2 separate regions of the Homo sapiens genome follow, and region 2 is reported to be linked to region 1. Evidence: microRNA targets listed by miRTarBase, many of them from high-throughput screens and not tested one by one. Region 1 holds a microRNA gene; the other region holds the end of a gene's coding sequence.
The links. The annotated mature microRNA hsa-miR-3064-3p reads UUGCCACACUGCAACACCUUACA and lies in region 1 at 4,618-4,640, shown strand. An mRNA with a match to its seed (bases 2 to 7 or 8) in the 3' UTR can be bound and repressed. Matches are read on the target gene's strand: a 7mer-m8 pairs with bases 2 to 8, a 7mer-A1 pairs with bases 2 to 7 and ends in A, and an 8mer does both.

Region 2: miRTarBase lists ZNF267 as a target of hsa-miR-3064-3p. Seed matches in the 3' UTR shown: 7mer-m8 at 1,334-1,340 and 8mer at 1,416-1,423.

Annotation. Positions count from the first base shown.
Region 1 is chr17:64,498,293-64,505,414 of GRCh38, reverse strand. MIR3064 (microRNA 3064) reads left to right here and starts at 4,576; the gene lies at 4,576-4,641. DDX5 (DEAD-box helicase 5) reads left to right here. Exons shown (of 13, transcript NM_004396.5): 2 at 573-738; 3 at 1,097-1,193; 4 at 1,299-1,432; 5 at 1,547-1,612; 6 at 1,844-1,985; 7 at 2,067-2,227; 8 at 2,317-2,489; 9 at 2,866-2,976; 10 at 3,192-3,253; 11 at 3,346-3,405; 12 at 4,642-4,866; 13 at 5,089-7,122. The coding sequence ends at 5,492. It overlaps MIR5047 (microRNA 5047), which reads left to right and starts at 4,102; the gene lies at 4,102-4,201. RefSeq lists a silencer at 1-35.
Region 2 is chr16:31,915,245-31,922,366 of GRCh38, forward strand. ZNF267 (zinc finger protein 267) reads left to right here. Exons shown (of 4, transcript NM_003414.6): 4 at 1-2,113. The coding sequence ends at 1,237. Among named protein-coding and RNA genes, the nearest start is that of ZNF267, 45 kb to the left of the region's middle.

The DNA.
Region 1 (7,122 bases):
TTTTTCCTGCGTTATATAATTTTGATTCGTTGATCCGGAGCTCTACCGCGGCGTTCCCCCAGCTGGGTTTGCTAGCAGAAGTGTTTCTGAGAAAACCCTTGTTCTGTTATCGCTGACTGTACTGTTTAGGTTCTTACCACTAAAGCTGTTTGGTTCCAAAACGGCCATATGAGTAACATCGTCGTGATGCTCTTCGGTTCATGTAGCCTTGTTATTGCTGATAGTGAATTGCTAGGCTGGTGGGGAAGATTACAGTAACCACAAGAAGTGGTGTGTGCCAGAATCCCAAATTCTGGCATGTGGGTGACAAGTTTCCGACATGATAAATCCCCGGCTTCCGACATGATAAATCCCAGGCTGTTTACATGACCTAAGTAATGTGTACTTGGGACTACGGGAAATGTTAACTGTGGCTGTTGAGAGAGAGAGAGATTTTCACGAAGGACAGTGCTAGGTTTACCTCTCGAAGTCTGTTTTCAGTGGTTTTTAGCTTGTGCCAATGGATGACAAATCTATACAGAAACCTGGGTATAGCCATTTGAAAATGTGAATAACGTTTTTTTTCATTCCAGGTTTGGTGCACCTCGATTTGGAGGAAGTAGGGCAGGGCCCTTATCTGGAAAGAAGTTTGGAAACCCTGGGGAGAAATTAGTTAAAAAGAAGTGGAATCTTGATGAGCTGCCTAAATTTGAGAAGAATTTTTATCAAGAGCACCCTGATTTGGCTAGGCGCACAGCAGTGAGTAAATTCATGTGGCTTCATCAGGCTGTAACTCGATCGTGGATTCTAGTAAATGAAATTCTGACAGGTGTTTTGCAAATAACTCAATTTTGGTAGAGTTACATGTTCTGACTTCATAATTGGGAAAGGTGTGACTCACTTTTGGATATAGGTGGCTTTGGGATTTTTACTTAAATTAGGTTGAGTATAACAATAAATTTTTTTTTTCATAATAGGGTGTTCATAGGTGGGTCCAGATTAAAATGAAGGCTACTTTAAACTAGTTACTAAATTATGAAGTTAGGGGCTTATCAATTACGTATTTAGCTAGGGGTGGTTGTCATGAATTTTAAGACTGTTATAATTTGTTTTGCAGCAAGAGGTGGAAACATACAGAAGAAGCAAGGAAATTACAGTTAGAGGTCACAACTGCCCGAAGCCAGTTCTAAATTTTTATGAAGCCAATTTCCCTGGTAAGTGCTACTTTTCAGTTCTACCTACCCGTGTTTTTGTTTCCACCTACCCCCTCTTTTTCTTGGCATCACTAATTTTTACTAAATATCTGTTACTAATTATAGCAAATGTCATGGATGTTATTGCAAGACAGAATTTCACTGAACCCACTGCTATTCAAGCTCAGGGATGGCCAGTTGCTCTAAGTGGATTGGATATGGTTGGAGTGGCACAGACTGGATCTGGGAAAACATTGTCTGTAAGTTTGGGAGAACTCTTGAGTTGATCTGATATATGCAAGAAAATGTAATGGTAATTTAAAAACGAGTATTTTAATGTGATTTCTGTTTGTCCCCACTTTCACCCTAAATAGTATTTGCTTCCTGCCATTGTCCACATCAATCATCAGCCATTCCTAGAGAGAGGCGATGGGCCTATTGTAAGTATATATTTTTAACTTTTTATTAGAAGCATAATGTGTAGATTTTAGACTACATAGCTAAAGATGTAATCATTTGTGGTGGTTTTATATAGAGGTTAGCTCACCCTATTCAGCTGGAGCTGTTTTGGGTATTGGACAACACATGAAGAAAGGATCTGCTAGTATAATAAGTTAGCAGTTTAAAACTAGTATCCAGGTTTGTGCTGAAAGCTGTTTCTCTTTCCTTAGTGTTTGGTGCTGGCACCAACTCGGGAACTGGCCCAACAGGTGCAGCAAGTAGCTGCTGAATATTGTAGAGCATGTCGCTTGAAGTCTACTTGTATCTACGGTGGTGCTCCTAAGGGACCACAAATACGTGATTTGGAGAGAGGTATGTAATGAAAAGGGTTTTATTTGTCATTGGTGCTAAATATCCTAGGTATTGTAGTTACACTTACGTATTTAATTAAAGGTGTGGAAATCTGTATTGCAACACCTGGAAGACTGATTGACTTTTTAGAGTGTGGAAAAACCAATCTGAGAAGAACAACCTACCTTGTCCTTGATGAAGCAGATAGAATGCTTGATATGGGCTTTGAACCCCAAATAAGGAAGATTGTGGATCAAATAAGAGTAAGTGTCCTTTGAAATATGTGATCAAACTGAATTGTGTTTTCACTCTTAAGAGTCTGATACTAATTTTTCCCCCCAAAATCCATTAGCCTGATAGGCAAACTCTAATGTGGAGTGCGACTTGGCCAAAAGAAGTAAGACAGCTTGCTGAAGATTTCCTGAAAGACTATATTCATATAAACATTGGTGCACTTGAACTGAGTGCAAACCACAACATTCTTCAGATTGTGGATGTGTGTCATGACGTAGAAAAGGATGAAAAGTAAGTTTTATTAACTCTGTTATATTTGCTTCCTAACAACTTTGCTGTAAAATTGAGGGATCATTGTTTGGTGAGTTGTTTTAGGTTATTTCAGTTGGTGTGATTTCATTTAGTTAGCCTACTAATCCTGAAAATTTCTTGAATCCTTCAAATAATGGCTGTCACCATTTATAGCTTTCCTATAGAAGGAATTCATGTGTCCCCTGGTTGACTTAAGGACCAAGGGTCGAACTGCTCGATAAGTGGATTAGCAGGCGTTTCCTCTTTGACTTCCAGCCATGTAAATTGAACTTAATGTTTTGCTGACCATAAATGTGTGGCCCTAGCAATGGTCTTTTAAAACTCAGGATTTTTCCTTTCTCTCTCCTATTATTAGACTTATTCGTCTAATGGAAGAGATCATGAGTGAGAAGGAGAATAAAACCATTGTTTTTGTGGAAACCAAAAGAAGATGTGATGAGCTTACCAGAAAAATGAGGAGAGATGGGTATGTGTGAGCTCCTCCATTGAAGCAGATTGATTAAAACAGCTTAGGAAAGGGCAAACTTGGATCACGAGCAGTGGATTTTTTTCATATCTGATAGTGAATTTAACTTTTTCATTTCTGGCGAAATTAAAGAGATCTGTGACCAAAAGTGGTCAAGCACTGGAGTCTGAGGTTTTCAATGTGAGTTTAATAACACAACTTGTCTTTTAACTTAGGTGGCCTGCCATGGGTATCCATGGTGACAAGAGTCAACAAGAGCGTGACTGGGTTCTAAATGGTAAATATTTCAAATGAAGTATTTTTCCCCCTTACTTAACCTAGCTAGAATTCTGCTCAGATAATTGATCATGTATATGCCTTCCTTTGTAGAATTCAAACATGGAAAAGCTCCTATTCTGATTGCTACAGATGTGGCCTCCAGAGGGCTAGGTTAGTACAAACTCGCATTCATGGCTTGGTTTCCCAGAAGATCTCCATTTAACTTTTTTAAAGAAAGTTTATTGCTTTCTTTAACCTGCATTTTTTCTAAGTTTTTTTTCACATAAAGGTGCTGTCTTTGTGGCAAGGCCTAGGCATGACAATCGGAGGACTCGAGGGGGATGGAGGACTAGTGATCGGCTGGCTGCTTCCAGTCGATTAGAGAGGTGAAAAAGCTGAACGTGTGCCAGTAATCTTCAAAAGGCAGAACATATCACCTCTGCCCCGTAAACTGTTCTCTCCGAGGGAAAAAATGGAAGTTATCCTCACAGTTCACTGCCGTGGTATTTCTTCTGTCCCATGCTTTGCATGACTGCCATGGTACAGCCTTGTTTCAAACTGTTCACTGTGATCTGTGGGTCTTTGAGTTTCAGTGAGTTTGCTGAAATGTCGAAGAAGTAGTTCCAAACTTCAATGTTCAATGAAATTTTTGTTCAAGTTTGAAATGGAGAGAGCAGCTTTAAAAGGTACTAAGCCTTTTACAAATTGGTGAGTACTGGCACATGAGATCTAGAGCAGGAGCAACTTCTCACACATAGTAAGTGGGAAAAGAAAGTGCTTTGAAAGTTCCTCCCTCACCTACACAGTAGTCGTCATGTCGAGACCTGCCAGAGAGAGACACATTCTCAAGTGAATCCTGGCTTCTTGGAAGCGCTTGCCTAGACGAGACACAGTGCATAAAAACAACTTTTGGGGGACAGGTATGTTTTCTTGCAGCTGCGGTTGTAAGGTCTTGGCAAGACAAGCAGTGTGGCCAGAATTTTGAACTTCTGATGAATGTGTAATGCAAAGGACCTTGTACATTTTTTTGTTTCAAGGTCCTCAAAATGAGCACATGAAGAGGTTGCTGTGAAACTTTAAGTGGCCCTACTGCGCAGAAGCATTCAGATGTCACTTGATGATCTGTAAGGGAACTTGCTGATTTGGGAATGTGCTTAGGGAACACACATTCCTTTTGACAGGGTCTGTCACTGGGTGGGTGATGAATTATACAGATGACATGTGCTTTTTTTTCTTTTTTCAACCTCAATGGTATTCCTACAGGAAATGGATAACCATTTTAACTGTATTTTTTGCAGCCCGTACCTTCTTGGGAATACAATTGTCTAACTTTTTATTTTTGGTCTGGCTGTTGTGGTGTGCAAAACTCCGTACATTGCTATTTTGCCACACTGCAACACCTTACAGATGTGGAAGATGTGAAATTTGTCATCAATTATGACTACCCTAACTCCTCAGAGGATTATATTCATCGAATTGGAAGAACTGCTCGCAGTACCAAAACAGGCACAGCATACACTTTCTTTACACCTAATAACATAAAGCAAGTGAGCGACCTTATCTCTGTGCTTCGTGAAGCTAATCAAGCAATTAATCCCAAGTTGCTTCAGTTGGTCGAAGACAGAGGTTCAGGTAAGGATGACTGATAGGAAATGTTGGTAGTTACGAGTCACATCGTTGTCTACAAATCCATTTAAATGGTATTGGAGGGTGAGTAAAACCTTGAATGTGAAAACTTAAGCTGAAAAATTGTAAAAACATTTCACGCCTACCATGAATAGATCTGTTTCTTTCTGTCCACAATGATTTGTGTCATAGACATAATTGATCAATTTGCAATTGTTTTCTTGACAGGTCGTTCCAGGGGTAGAGGAGGCATGAAGGATGACCGTCGGGACAGATACTCTGCGGGCAAAAGGGGTGGATTTAATACCTTTAGAGACAGGGAAAATTATGACAGAGGTTACTCTAGCCTGCTTAAAAGAGATTTTGGGGCAAAAACTCAGAATGGTGTTTACAGTGCTGCAAATTACACCAATGGGAGCTTTGGAAGTAATTTTGTGTCTGCTGGTATACAGACCAGTTTTAGGACTGGTAATCCAACAGGGACTTACCAGAATGGTTATGATAGCACTCAGCAATACGGAAGTAATGTTCCAAATATGCACAATGGTATGAACCAACAGGCATATGCATATCCTGCTACTGCAGCTGCACCTATGATTGGTTATCCAATGCCAACAGGATATTCCCAATAAGACTTTAGAAGTATATGTAAATGTCTGTTTTTCATAATTGCTCTTTATATTGTGTGTTATCTGACAAGATAGTTATTTAAGAAACATGGGAATTGCAGAAATGACTGCAGTGCAGCAGTAATTATGGTGCACTTTTTCGCTATTTAAGTTGGATATTTCTCTACATTCCTGAAACAATTTTTAGGTTTTTTTTGTACTAGAAAATGCAGGCAGTGTTTTCACAAAAGTAAATGTACAGTGATTTGAAATACAATAAATGAAGGCAATGCATGGCCTTCCAATAAAAAATATTTGAAGACTGAATTAAGTGGAAATTGTACTTTATTTTATATAATGTCATGTAAAACTTTGCTTAAGATGGTCTGGTTTTTTTTTTGTTTTTGTTTGGTTTTTTTTTTCCATGAAAACAAATGACTGTTCCTTTTTATTTAATTTGGGAGGCAGGGGGAATCAGAAGGCCCTTCTTTATAATGAGCTATTCATATTGCAGGAGTCAGAATGAATTGATACAGGTGAATTTTTAGTTACAGGCTAAATTGCATAAAAGCTTTGTCAGCTTCCAGCATCAGGGGAGTCATTTAATAGCCTTTTTCCTTATTTGCTAGTATGGTTAAATGAGAAAATAGTAAAATAGATACAAAGTCATCTATATAGTGTGAGAACGTGGGTGACTTTTTCAAAGTTTATAATTTAAAAAGCTCCAAATAACTGGCTTTTTCAAGAGACTTATACTCATGCTCTTGGCTATACTGTGAATTACTGAAATGTTGAACAAACCTGTGAAAGACATACATTAGCCCTTTAAGATGGCCAGGAGCTAAGCTTGAGTCTCCTTTACTGAATTTCGTTCTTAGTGCAGGTTACTTGTAGATTCTAGTCTTCACAGGCTCCCTGGGGCTCTTAACTAGTCACACTGGGAGTCATGAATGTCTTTCCAATAATTCAGGGAATTCTAGAGATCCTCAAACTGTAAGGTCTATTCATACTCAACACAAGGAAAAAACCTCATTAAAATTAATGACTAATCAGGAGGCAACGTAACCAAAAGCACAGTGAATGAAAGTTTTCATGGTAGGTTCAACATGGGTTTATTGCTAGAAAGATCCAGGGGATAGCTTTAGGTTTAACTTCGGCTCACCAACGTAACTTTCTAATCATTTATTTCAGTAATAGCTAGAAGTGGGTCTGAATGTTTTCCCAGAGTCTGATACGTGTTTTTTTTTGCCAGAAGAGAGGTCTTCAGGAGACTTCATTTAAATTCTGATTATTAAACTGAGGCTTTAATTGATGTTAATGCCTTATGTCAAATGTAAAGTTAGAATTTGCTAGGGCTGGGATAGGGAGTGATATTTCTAGGACTTAGACATTGAAAACTAATTCAGCCTGTAGTAACCTGGATGGTTTTCAATGGCATGGTTAGTCAAATTCATGGTTTTAAACTTAGAAGCAGCTTTCGGGGGAGAGGGTAGGTTGGAGCATTTATTACATATTTTACTGTTTAATGTCTTAACCGTGGGCCTTTTAATTTGTAAACACTGAAATGATTGTTGGGCTGTGGAAAACATTTACCTATTTACCTTGGAAGTTTTAAAAGACAGTCCACTTTTTAGCATGTGTGTTGTGTCCAGCC
Region 2 (7,122 bases), not on the chromosome of region 1:
CCATAGTTTGCACCTTACTCAACATCAGATCATTCCTACCGAAGAGAAACCCTGTAAATGGAAAGAATGTGGCAAGGTCTTTAACCTTAACTGTAGTTTATACCTTACTAAACAGCAGCAAATTGATACTGGAGAAAACCTTTACAAATGTAAAGCATGTAGCAAATCTTTTACTCGTTCCTCCAATCTTATTGTGCATCAGAGAATTCACACTGGAGAGAAACCATACAAATGTAAAGAATGTGGCAAAGCCTTTCGCTGTAGTTCATACCTTACTAAACATAAGCGAATTCATACTGGAGAGAAACCTTATAAATGTAAAGAATGTGGAAAAGCTTTTAACCGTAGTTCATGCCTTACTCAACATCAGACAACTCATACAGGAGAAAAACTTTACAAATGTAAAGTATGTAGCAAATCTTATGCTCGTTCTTCAAATCTTATTATGCATCAGAGAGTTCATACTGGAGAGAAGCCTTATAAATGTAAAGAATGTGGCAAAGTCTTTAGCCGTAGTTCTTGCCTTACTCAACATCGGAAAATTCATACTGGAGAAAATCTTTACAAATGCAAAGTATGTGCTAAACCTTTTACTTGTTTCTCAAATCTTATTGTGCATGAGAGAATTCATACTGGAGAGAAACCCTATAAATGTAAAGAATGTGGCAAAGCCTTTCCTTATAGTTCACACCTTATTCGACATCATCGAATTCATACTGGAGAAAAACCATACAAATGTAAAGCATGTAGCAAATCTTTTAGTGACTCCTCAGGTCTTACTGTGCATCGGCGAACTCATACTGGAGAGAAACCCTATACATGTAAAGAATGTGGCAAAGCCTTTAGTTATAGTTCAGATGTTATTCAGCATCGGAGAATTCATACTGGCCAGAGACCCTACAAATGTGAAGAATGTGGCAAAGCCTTCAACTATAGGTCATACCTCACTACACATCAGAGAAGTCATACTGGAGAGAGACCCTACAAATGTGAAGAATGTGGCAAAGCCTTCAACTCTAGGTCATACCTCACTACACATCGGAGAAGACATACTGGAGAGAGACCCTACAAATGTGATGAATGTGGTAAAGCCTTCAGCTATAGGTCATACCTCACTACACATCGGAGAAGTCATAGTGGAGAGAGACCCTACAAATGTGAAGAATGTGGCAAAGCCTTTAACTCTAGGTCATACCTCATTGCACATCAGAGAAGTCATACTAGAGAAAAACTTTAAAAATGTAAAACATGGAGCAGATTTTTTACTTGTTACCCATGTCTTATTGTGCATCAGATAATTTATATGGGAGTGAAACCCTACAAATGTTAAGAATGTGGCATAACCTTTAACTATTTTCAAGCCTTACACAATAGCAGAGAATATAAACTGAAAAAATCCATACAAATATTAAAAATGTGGCAAATTATTTTAAACTGTGCTCAACCCTTACTCAAGATAATCCATACTAGAGAAACACTATAGATGTAAAAATGTGAAAAGTTTTATTCAAAATATCAAACTTATGAGTCACCTAGGGGTTCATAGAAAAAGGAAGTTTGCAGATGCAATAAATGTGAGGAAGTATTTAATAAAAAATGAAGTCTAAATGTGTCAGAGAATTTATGTGAGAAAGGACTAAAGCACAGACACTTTCAGCCTTTATACTAAATAAGAGTATTTTTTGTACAGAATAATCTAAAGGCAAAATAATTAGATAATTTATTTGCTTATATGTTTTAAAGTAGCAAGAACATTGATGTTTTGACAGGTATATTTCATAGATACTTCATTTGTATTTACAGTATTTGAGGTTTTTGGAAAGCAAATATTATTTATATAATTCAGCTTTCAAATCTGTTGCTGCTTTTCCTTAATCCGTGGTGTTCATGTGAAAATATGTGTTCTGTTTTTTTTTCTGCATCAGAACAATGTGAGGTCATTCTACGTTAATATCATTAATATCAGCATTTTTCATGGAAGTTTAATGCCAAATGTAAAACACATGAAAATTTTTAAAAATATGCTCTTTGTGTTTGAATAAAGTAGTAATGCATGTAAACATATACGTGTTTAGAGCTCTTTTCTATATTAAAGTAAGAGGGATATTCTGAATTTTTGAAATTACTTCAATTCCTCCATAAGTTTTTTTTTTTTTTTTTTTTTAAAAAGACTTCATTTAAAGCAGAGGTCCCCATTCCCAGGCTGTAGACCAGTTACTGGTCTGTGGCCTGTTAGAAACTGAGCTGCACCAGTAGGACATGAGTGGTGGGTGAGCAAGCATTACCACCTGAGCTCTGCCTCCTCTCAGATGAGTGGTGGCATTAGATTTTCATAAACCCTATTGTGAACTATGCATGTGAGGGATCTAGGTTGTGTGCTCCTTAGGAGACTCCAACTAATGCCTGATGACCTGAGGCAGAACATTTTCATCCCAAAACCATCTCTCTCCTTGCCAGTTTGTAGAAAAATTGTCTTCCATGAAACCAATCCCTGGTGCCAAAAAGGTTAGGACCACTGAGTTGAAGTACTAACATATCTTTAAAACAGAATAAAGTAGGAGTCTTTAGTATTATTTGATGTGATAGAATACATAGTGAAAAAGTTGAGTATTTGATGTGATGAGAATAACATCTTCACCTGTATCAGGGAAATGTGAAGATAATTCCTATCAACATTCACTAAATAATTAGCCTCACTTTAAAAAAACGTAGAAAACAGAACTGCAAGATTAGTATATTGGAAAAAAAGAATGCTTCTTGAGTACTTGTAACTGTATTTTGACCAGGAAGAATATAGTGGATTTTAAAATGCTGTAGACTATGGGTGAACTTAATTTCTTTTAATAAAATGAGTTGGTTTTTCATGTTTTAACACTGATGTACAATGAATGAAATGTTGTACTGACACCAGTGTTAAACTATTCCATCTTATCTAAGATTGTGGTTAACAGATGGAAATAATATACTATGGGTTAACAGTGAAATGTCTTCCCTAATATTCCTTTTGCTGGAGGACTTAAACTTTCAATAATTTGGAGAATAGTTTTCTCATAGTGACTATCTTAATAATGATTAGATAAGGCAGGTAAGATTGAAAGGCCACAACTTAGCAGCAAATGTTTTACATTCATTTGAGAGCCAGTTTGTAAGTAGTTCACCAAAAGATGTTGGGTTAAAGCAGTGGTTTGAATTAATTGCATAGCATTCATATAACAGAATACAACTCAGCCTAAAGCTCACACCCTATATGAATCTCATAGACCTCGTAAGTGAAAAAAGGTAGACATAAAATTGTGTTTTGTATATTTATGTATTGTATTATTTCAGGCAAAATAAACCTATGGTGAAATAAACACATTGATAGCCTCTGGCTGAGGAAGAAAAGATAGGTGCCTGGGACAAAACACGAGTGAATTTTCTGAAGATGATGAAAATGTTCTGTTTCTAAACTAGGTGAAGGTCGTAAGGGTTTATTTGTCAAAAATTTACAACTAGAGTTTGCGTCAGCCCATTGGTGCTGCAGAGTCTGTTTCCTTTGGGTTGGGACCTCATTCCTTTGAGTTGGGACTTCACCTCATTCAAGTCCTGGCAGAGTCACTAGAAGAGATGTGATGATCTTGTCCCAGACCCCAAGAGTGGGTTCTTGAATCTCACACAGGAAAGAATTCTTGGTGAGTTGCAGAGTGTAGTAAAGTTTATTAGAGACTACTCAGTTACAGAGTAGGGCATCCTCAGAAAGCAGGAAGAGGAATGCCTTGCAATGAGAAGAGATAGTTTATTGAAAGCTCCTCTGTTAGAGTAGGCCTTCCTCAGAAAGCAAGAGGAGAAATGCACCCATTTCAAATGGTTATATAGGTTATTAAGAATGGTATACTTTATTACAGAGGATTCTAATCAGCTTATGACAGGCTATTAGTATTGTTACTTTTCTATGTTACTATTGATTTCAGCAAGAATTTATGAGTACTATTTTTAAAGCAAAACATACTTAAACTAATAATGCTTTTTCTTAAAGTACTGGGACATTTTCTTAAGTTTTGAGTTCTTATTTAGTTGATTAACATCATTAACTCAGTGTTTCAACCATAAACATCTTGTGACCAAGAGTGCCCAGCCCCCTCGGAAAGTAATCCAGCAGGTTTGGCATTTTTTTTTTTTTTTTCTTGAGACAGAGTCTCGCTGAGTTGCCCAGGCTGGACTGCAGTGGTGCAATCTCGGCTCACTGCAATCACCGCCTCTTGGGCGTAAGCCATTCTCCTGCCTCAGCCTCCCGAGTAGCCGGGATTACAGGTGCCCGCCACCACACCCGGCTAATTTATATATTTTTAGTAGAGACAGGGTTTCACCATGTTGGCCAGGCTGTTTTTGAATCTCTGACCTCAGCTGATCTGCCCACTTCAGCCTCCCAAAGTGTTGGGATTACAGGTGCGAGCCACTGTGCCCGGCCATAGGTTTGGCTTTACCTGGCCTTTATTCAAGATAGGGCCTCTAGTTAGGATACTTCTGGCAGAATTAGCATGATTGTTATCTGAGAGTGGTCTATCACACTGCAGTGAGGAAGGGTGTTGAACAGCGACTAAGGTGTAATGGCTGCTCATTTGGCTACAGAGGTCCAGCTAGCAGCAAAAGTATAATGACTTGAGTAGGAATTACAGTTAGGAAAAGGATTTTTAAAGAGCTCTATAGTCCAAAGTTGACTTAATAAAAACTGATATTTACTCTACGTACATACACATATGCATGGTTTTAAGATCTCCTCTCTCTGTAAAAGTCAAATGAATTCTGTTTCTCCATTTACTTCTGTCTGTCCTTCCTCTTGCCACTCCAAATGCCACATGAGGGGAACGCCCCCCAAAAAAAGAATTCTAACAGAATTCTAGCCTAGAATCACAGAAAACAGAAAAGTTGTCACAGTCTCCTCCTCTTGGGAGGAAACTGCTTTTTCTCATGAGGCCCTCAGAGTTGTAAGCAGAGAGATCCCTCTCAGGTCTAACACTCTGCTCTTTCTTGTATTGCATTACTTGATCTCCTTGGCTTTGGGGGATACCAGAGATTACATTGTACTATGAGAGAACTTGACTAGGTGGATGTAATTGCTGGTGAGTCACTGGCAAGAGCTATGGTGTTAGAGGGCTGACAGCAGTCGCTTACAGTAAATGTTTATTACTCTAGGGAGTTGCTTATTTCTTTGGGTGTTTGGATAGAAAAAGTATGGTTTAGAATGTAGAGGCTACAGAAACAGCCCCCAAGCCACCCCACCGAGGGGTAAGACACCCATGTGGGATGCAGTAATCATAGTGTGTGCTGGCATAGGATTGCCTACCAACCTCAAATGAATGTCCCTCTACTGAGGTGCACTATGGAATCATTGAACTGCCCAGTCCTCTGGCATGGCATTTCTTTTGGGGGCTCAGAATTCAATGTAAAAATGGGATTCTTGATTTGGGAGAATCTAAGTGTTATGCCTTCCAGCTGCTCCTGCTTTGCACATATTTAAATATTAAGCCCTAAAAACTGCATGCTTCCTTTGCTTTATTTATTAAGTGGCTCCACCCTGAAGCCAGTAATCTAAAAAACACACTACGTTAAAAAGCCCATCTAGCCAACTAAATCAGTCTCCAAAATGTGCAACTTTCCGACATTTAGCTGGCTGTTTTGCTTCTCTTTGTTAAAACACACACACACACACACACACACACACACACACACACACACACACGAATACTTTTCTCCAGGACCTGGGAACAATGTATTTGAAATATAAATACGAAAAAAGATAGTACCCGATCTCACAATTTTGCAGTAAGATAGAAGCCTAATTTTATCAGGCACTTAATTCCAAGTTGCAAAACAATTTTCTGTCACAAAAGTTGGAAGTTTATTTTCCCCCCCGGTTTTTTTTTTGAGACGGAGTCTCGCCCTGTCGCCCAGACTGGAGAGCAGTGGCACAGTCTCGGCTCACTGCAAGCACCGCCTCCGGGGTTCACGCCATTCTCCTGCCTCAGCCTCCCGAGTGGCTGGGACTACAGGCACCTGCCACCACGCCCAGCTAATTTTTTGTATTTTTAGTAGAGACGGGGTTTCACCGTGTTAGCCAGGATGGTCTCAATCTCCTGACCTCGTGATCTGCCCGTCTCAGCCTCCCAAAGTGCTGGGATTACAGGCGTCAGCCACCGCGCCCGGCCTATTTTTCCTTTTAATAAAGCCAGTTATCAAACCTAGATCATCTTTCTAGTTACCAGGTGAATTTAGGATAAACTGTGCCAAATGGTGCTGTCAAATTTTCCTACTTGAGGGCTACTAATATTAATCTTGACAACACATATGTTTTATAACTCAAACCAGACTGTGATGTTTAAACACTACATGTTTTGCTTCTGATGCACATCACATTCTGGTTTGAGTTATAAAACAATTTTATCTCTCTTCTACCTTTGTGGGGAGGCATTCTAGGTTGGGAGGCAATGTTGTTTTAATTATATTTCCCAAGCACTGTTCAGAATTACAAGATCAAATATAAACATAAAAGGTACCGATCAGGTTTCATACTAGAAGGGACTTTGGCAGATACCCATCAAATTTTCTTTCAGGCTTTCTTCCCCCAAGCCACAATTGTTCAGTGAAGATCTTGCCTGCCCTCAAAATGTGAATGCAGTATGATCTTGCTGCCTATTTTGGGCTCTGCAGTTTCATCTGGGGCATAGTTAGAAAAGATTTGTAATAAAATAACCTCATAAAGTGGCAATCATCCGTTCCAGCCCTGTCTTTCAATGTACCTGGGGACTTTATAACAGAAATTGATTCAGAGAACATGGGGCCTGGTAGCACAGACATGTACCTGCGCATTGAGTTGGCCTCTTCCACTTCCCTGTCTCTCTGGGAACCTAAATCTGCACCACTAAATTTTGAATGCAGTATCTGGGGCTCTTCAGAATGCTCTATAGCAGCCTTCCTGGAAGGAATCTCTTTTCCTCTTGTCTCTTCTTGCTGTAAAACCCAAGAATACAGAACAGATGCGATCCCTCATAGAATTTGCACACAAGGGGAATTTGCCTCCCCGTGAGATTCATAAAACAGGGCCAGCCTTCAGTCTGAGGATTACAGAAAATCCAGGGCAGACCT